2 linked regions of the Homo sapiens genome follow. The protein of the gene in region 1 purifies or fractionates together with the protein of each later gene. This does not show direct contact. Each region holds a gene or a part of one and is shown on either strand. Other genes may lie near its edges. The genes, in order: BRINP1 and IQSEC1.

Region 1 (2,476 bases):
TTCATTTCAACTTTGGTGAATCTGACAATTATGTGTCTTGGAGTTGCTCTTCTCAAGGAGTATCTTTGTGGCATTCTCTGTATTTCCTGAATCTGAACGTTGGCCTGCCTTGCTAGATTGGGGAAGTTCTCCTGGATAATATCCTGCAGAGTGCTTTCCAACTTGTTTCCATTCTCCCCATCACTTTCAGGTACACCAATCAGATGTAGATTTGGTCTTTTCACATAGTCCCATATTTCTTGGAGGCTTTGCTCATTTCTTTTTATTCTTTTTTCTCTAAACTTCCCTTCTCACTTCATTTCATTCATTTCATCTTCCATTGCTGATACCCTTTCTTCCAGTTGATCGCATCGGCTCCTGAGGCTTCTGCATTCTACACGTAGTTCTCGAGCCTTGGTTTTCAGCTCCATCAGCTCCTTTAAGCACTTCTCTGTATTGGTTATTCTAGTTATGCATTCTTCTAAATTTTTTTTAAAGTTTTCAACTTCTTTGCCTTTGGTTTGAATGTCCTCCTGTAGCTCAGAGTAATTTGATCGTCTGAAGCCTTCTTCTCTCAGCTCGTCAAAGTCATTCTCCATCCAGCTTTGTTCCGTTGCTGGTGAGGAACTGCGTTCCTTTGGAGGAGGAGAGGCGCTCTGCTTTTTAGAGTTTCCGGTTTTTCTGTTCTGTTTTTTCCCCATCTTTGTGGTTTTATCTACTTTTGGTCTTTGATGATGGTGATGTACAGGTGGGTTTTTGGTGTGGATGTCCTTTCTGTTTGTTAGTTTTCCTTCTAACAGATAGGACCCTCAGCTGCAAGTCTGTTGGAATACCCTGCCTGTGACGTGTCAGTGTGCCCCTGCTGGCGGGGTGCCTCCCAGTTAGGCTGCTCAGGGGTCAGGGGTCAGGGACCCACTTGAGGAGGCAGTCTGCCCGTTCTCAGATCTCCAGCTGCATGCTGGGAGAACCACTGCTCTCTTCAAAGCTGTCAGACAGGAACATTTAAGTCTGCAGAGGTTACTGCTGTCTTTTTGTTTGTCTGTGCCCTGCCCCCAGAGGTGGAGCCTACAGAGGCAGGCAGGCCTCCTTGAGCTGTGGTGGGCTCCACCCAGTTCGAGCTTCCCGGCTGCTTTGTTTACCTAATCAAGCCTGGGCAATGGCGGGCGCCCCTCCCCCAGCCCGCTGCCGCCTTGCAGTTTGATCTCAGACTGCTGCGCTAGCAATCAGCGAGACTCTGTGGGCGTAGGACCCTCCGAGCCAGGTGCGGTAATATAATCTCGCGGTGCGCCGTTTTTTAAGCCCGCCGGAAAAGCACAGTATTCGGTGGGGGAGTGACCCGATTTTCCAGGTGCCGTCAGTCACCCCTTTCTTTGTTTCGGAAAGGGAACTCCCTGACCCCTTGCACTTCCCAAGTGAGGCAATGCCTCGCCCTGCTTCAGCTCGCGCACGGTGCGTGCACCCAATGACCTGCGCCCACTGTCTGGCACTCCCTAGTGAGATGCACCCGGTACCTCAGATGGAAATGCAGAAATCACTGTCTTCTGCGTCGCTCACGCTGGGAGCTGTAGACTGGAGCTGTTCCTATTAGGCCATCTTGGCTCCTCCGCCACATTTTCTTTATCCAGTCTATCATTGATGGGCATTTTGGTTGGTTCCAAGTCTTTGCTATTGTGGACAGGGCTGCAATAAACATCGTGTACATGTCTTTATAGTAGAATGATTTATAATCCTTTGGGTATATACCCAATAATGGGATTGCTGGGTCAAATGGTATTTCTCATTGTAGCTCCTTGAGGAATCGCCACACTGTCTTCCACAATGGTTGAACTGACTTATACTCACATCAACAGTGTAAAAGTGTTCCTGTTTCTCCACACCTTCTCCATCATCTGTTGGGAAATAACCCCTTTCTAACATGTTCTAAAAAACCACCATGAGGATCATGTAAGATCATCAATAGAAATCACTACATGATTTCTAGCGTATGATAAAATATAATTTGTTTTTGTTGAAGTTGGTAGATGTTATACACCCTCATGGGAGGAATCTGTAATGGGGGTTGAAACATGTGGTTTAAGTAAACAAATAACCCCTAAGGTCTTTTTCATTGCTGATTGTTTACAATATGTTGTCATCCAGAAGGGGTATTTGAGTCTAGACACTTTCATTTCCTGAATCACACTTTTCTGGGACTAGTGTATAATGGAATCAAAGAGCTGGAAGGACCCCAAGGAACATTTACTCCAACCCCTTCACTTTGCAGATGAGGACATTGAACATTAGGAAGGTAAAGTACGATGTCATGCAGCTGGTTTGTGGCATTAGGAGGAGCTACAATGTAGTTCTTACGTTTATATTCGATGCCCTTCCTGTATTGTCACTGCTCCATCCAGTCCTTTCATCTTTTTGGCAGCTCCAGTTCGCATTATCAGTTGGATAACTGTAACTCACAGACCCACTCATGGTAGCTAACCTTCTCCAATTTTCCTTTATCTCC
Region 2 (3,823 bases), on another chromosome or scaffold:
TTGGATGGCTCCTGTTCTCTCAAATCTCACTCTTACCCCCAGGAGGCTCCCTGCAGGCAGAGTGGATGAAAATATCCTGCCCCTTGGTCTCTGAGGCCCTGGCCCACCTGGGGCCTTACAGAGCAGGACAAGGAGGCTCCACTCCAGCTCTGTCCCTGCCTCACTATGTGACCCTGGGCAGGCTGCTTGCCCTCTCTGGGCCTCTGACCTCATCTGGAAAGTTCCTGGTTATGCTGCGACACACAGGGGACTGGGAGTGGGAGGAGTGGTGTCTGCCAGGCACAGCAGCTCCAGGCATGCTGGCTCATTCACATGGCCCCATCCTGCCGATCACTCACCCATTCATTCACTCAGCCCACCATGGTCACTGGACATCTAGTCCACGTCCTGACACACGCCAGGCCTGTGGGCTACGCCTGTAAATGGACCAGGCCCGCCCTGCCTGCATGGAGCTACCGCCCAGAGAAGGGACACAGTAAATAAGACCTGGTGGCACCTGCCAGAGCGGCTCCTGGATACAGCTGGGAAGAGAACGGGGTGGGGCAGTGGGCGCCCCTTCCTGCACACACCCCTCTCTCCTCAGCCGCTCTGGGGCCTGAGGCCCTCTCTCCTGGTCCTCCTGGCCTCCCACGATCCCACAACGTTCCAACTCCTGCCCAGCCCTGCCTGGAAGGCTCACCCTGCCACACTCTTGCCCATGCTGGCTCCTCTGCCGGGAGTGCCCTTCTTCCCCTTCACCTCAGACCTCACAGCCCAGCCTGTGCCTCTTTCCTGACTCCCCCAGGCAAATGGGCCCCCTCATAGAGCTCCCGCATGGCGCGTGGCGAGTCCTCGCTGTGACAGACACAGTGCCGGCCCCTCTGTTGTCACCAGCTGCCCGGAAGTCCTGCCTTTGCTTTCTAGCATCCCTGAGGGGCCTGGCCTGACAAGGTACAAATCACCATTTTTAAAATTGTGGTAAGATAGACAGAAAACTTCCTTTTTTAAAGCTGAACACTGTTGCGTTGTGCAGATCGACCACATGTTTGCCTTTTTTAATTACACACATTTCAGCGGCAGTAAGTGCATTCACAGTGCCGTGCAGCCAACACAGCATCCATCTCCAGAACTTCACTTTCCCAAACAGGGCTCTGTGCTCTGTAAGCGCAGACTCCCATCTTGCATCCCCAGCCCCTGGCACCCACCATTCTGCTCTCTGTCCCTGTGAATATGACTGCCCTGGGGATGTCATGTGAGTGGAATCAGACAGCATTTGTCCTTTCCTGACTGGCTTACTTCACTTAGCCTCATGTCCTCAAGGTTCATCCCTGCTGCGGCAATGGGCAGAACTTCCTTTTTAAAGCTGAACACTGTTCCATTGTGCGGATGGACCACATTTTGTTTGTCCATTCACCCATTGATGGACACTGGGTTGTTTCTGCCTTTTGGCTGTTGTGAATAGTGCTGCTGTGAACATGGGTGTGCAAATACCTCTCCGAGTCCCTGGTTCCATTTCTGTTGGGTGTATACTCAGAAGTGGGATTGCTGGGTCAGATTGTGATTGGATGCTGACTGTTTTGAAGAGCCGCCATACTGTTTTCCACAGCAGCTGCACTGCTTTACCTTCCCTCCACCACTGCACAAAGGTCCTGGTTTCTCCACATCTTCGCCATCACTCATTACTTTCTGTTTTTCTTTAATAATAGCCATCCTAATGGTGTGAAGTGGTATCTTGTGTTTTTAAATTTCCCCCTCTTGAATAAAAGTGTGAGTGATGAAGTTTAGCTTACAAAAGGGATGGTTACGTCTTTGTTGTTTTTCAAATATAGTCATATAACTGAGAGATTATTCATCCACATGGTACAAAAAAAGGCTGCACATATTGTCTATTTGGTTCCCTTGCTTCTTGTTCTTCTGCCCAGAGGCCACGGCTGTGTCCAGTTCCTTTGGGTCCTTGGTGAATTTCTGTGCATTTATATGTGTGCTTCATCATTGAAGTGCTCCCTCAGCAAGCTGGTGACACAGAGCAGTTTAGTTTTCCCACCACTGTTTTGTGGTTTCTGGATTTGAGCCAATGAAACGCTCAACTTGGGGGATGTGTGACCAGCCGGCCCCTGCAGGAGGTGGTGGTCTCCTTCCATGGGAAGCCCTGGCCAGCTGCTTGCAGTGGGGCCTCCATGAAGGAAGCCAAGCCCTGTGTGTCTTCCCCAGGCAGGAGAAGGGAGGCTGGTGGGACTGGGCCTGAACATTCCAAGATGAACACCCCCACACATCTCCAGGAAGCCTATGCGTCAAGCCTTCATCATTGTCACCTTAGCTGGCTCTCCGTCCAGGTCAGTCCTGGGCACAGTTATCAGCATCTCTTTGACAGTGGGCCCCAGATTCAGGCAGAGCTGCCAGAGGGCATGTGGGAGCAGGGCCAGCCTAGGTTGTGCAGGACAGGCCCCCACACCAAGAATCCACACAGATATTTATGGGCATGAAAATCTGCGAGCAACTATCCGAGTCTGGTCCTCACTCCTCTTGACATCTAAACCACAAAATGCATTTTGTATGATTTGAATATGCATTGAGTTTTCCAGGAATGCAACTGCTCTCGCAGTCGAGGGAAGATCAGACTCTGATATGTTCGGAGCTCAGCCAAGAGCTGCCACCATTCAGAGCACCACATCACCAAGGACAGCATCTCTCATGGTGCCAGAGTGCCCAGTGAACTCCAGCATCCATCTGGGTTTGTGGTCGCTGTCACACGACCAGGCAGGTGACTATAGGGTAGGCCCACCCACGATTAACATGACAAATTACCGTTTATTTTATTCTAAATTATTTTCCTCTTTTTTTTTCTCTGTAATTTTACCATTCAGCCATTCTCTTGGTTCTGTTTTAAATATGTGTGTGGATGGATCACATGAGTCATCAGCTTCATTTGAGAAGAGAGAAGAGGATAGTGCAAAGCTCTGGATTTAAGGAGCGGGGTGCTGGACAAGGGATCTTTGTGGTAATGGAGCTATTGTGTATTTTGACTGTGGTGGCACTTGTATGTGCCTGTATGTGTGTGCATGCGTGTGTTTAGTTCTATGCAGGCGTATCATGTATGCAGGCTCCACGGTACAAGCAAAATCGGAAAGCTACCTAAGATGGGAGGACAGTGCAGTGTCAGAATCCTGGTAGTGATGGATCCTATAGTTTTGTAAGATGTTACCATTGGGGGAAACGATGTATATAAGATCTCTCTGTATTGTTTTTTGTTTTTTTTTTTTTTACAACTGCAAATGAATCTACGATTATCTCAAAATAAAAAGTTTAATTTTTAAAAGGTGAGGGTGGGTATCAGGTCTGACAGGCTGAGATCCCTGGTAATTGAGGACAGCAGACAGCCAGTGACCTCCCAGTCTCAGTTCCTTGGTGGTGCACCATGGTCACCAACCTCTACTGCCCTCCACTCCCTGACACCTGAGACACCTTGGGCCCTTCTCTCCAAGGCTGCATCCCACCAGGGGCACTGGGGCCGGCCCCTCACCCCAGAAAGGAAACACAAGTCCCTTTTGCTGCCAGCTGGGGCCTGGCTGGCCCCCAGGGGTTCTGAGTTTCAGACCCTGCTCTGCCAGCAGGCAGTGGTTTCAGCTGGCTGATGGAGCAGAGGTCTTATCCATTGTCCCCCAATGCCTCCCAGAACCGGGGCCCCAGCCCCAGCCCAGGCCTCTTCTCAGGTGGGCCTTCCTGCTCCCCTGGGCTTGCAGAACAGCCCTGCTGACGGCCACTCCTGCCCTCCTCTGCCCTGTGCCCGCAGCATTCCTGATGACACAGTCACCATGCTTGTCTGTGCCTCCTGCCACCACAGTGG

The links.
Region 2: the proteins of BRINP1 (region 1) and IQSEC1 purify together in Homo sapiens (affinity purification with mass spectrometry; one large-scale study listed by BioGRID and IntAct). This does not show direct contact.

The regions. Positions count from the first base shown.
Region 1 is NC_000009.12:119,168,228-119,170,703, reverse strand, and holds part of BRINP1 (BMP/retinoic acid-inducible neural-specific protein 1 precursor), read left to right. Parts: intron 1-2,476. UniProt on the Homo sapiens protein: Plays a role in neurogenesis and brain development. May suppress cell cycle progression in postmitotic neurons by inhibiting G1/S transition.
Region 2 is NC_000003.12:13,063,420-13,067,242, reverse strand, and holds part of IQSEC1 (IQ motif and SEC7 domain-containing protein 1), read left to right. Parts: intron 1-3,823. UniProt on the Homo sapiens protein: Guanine nucleotide exchange factor for ARF1 and ARF6. Guanine nucleotide exchange factor activity is enhanced by lipid binding. Accelerates GTP binding by ARFs of all three classes.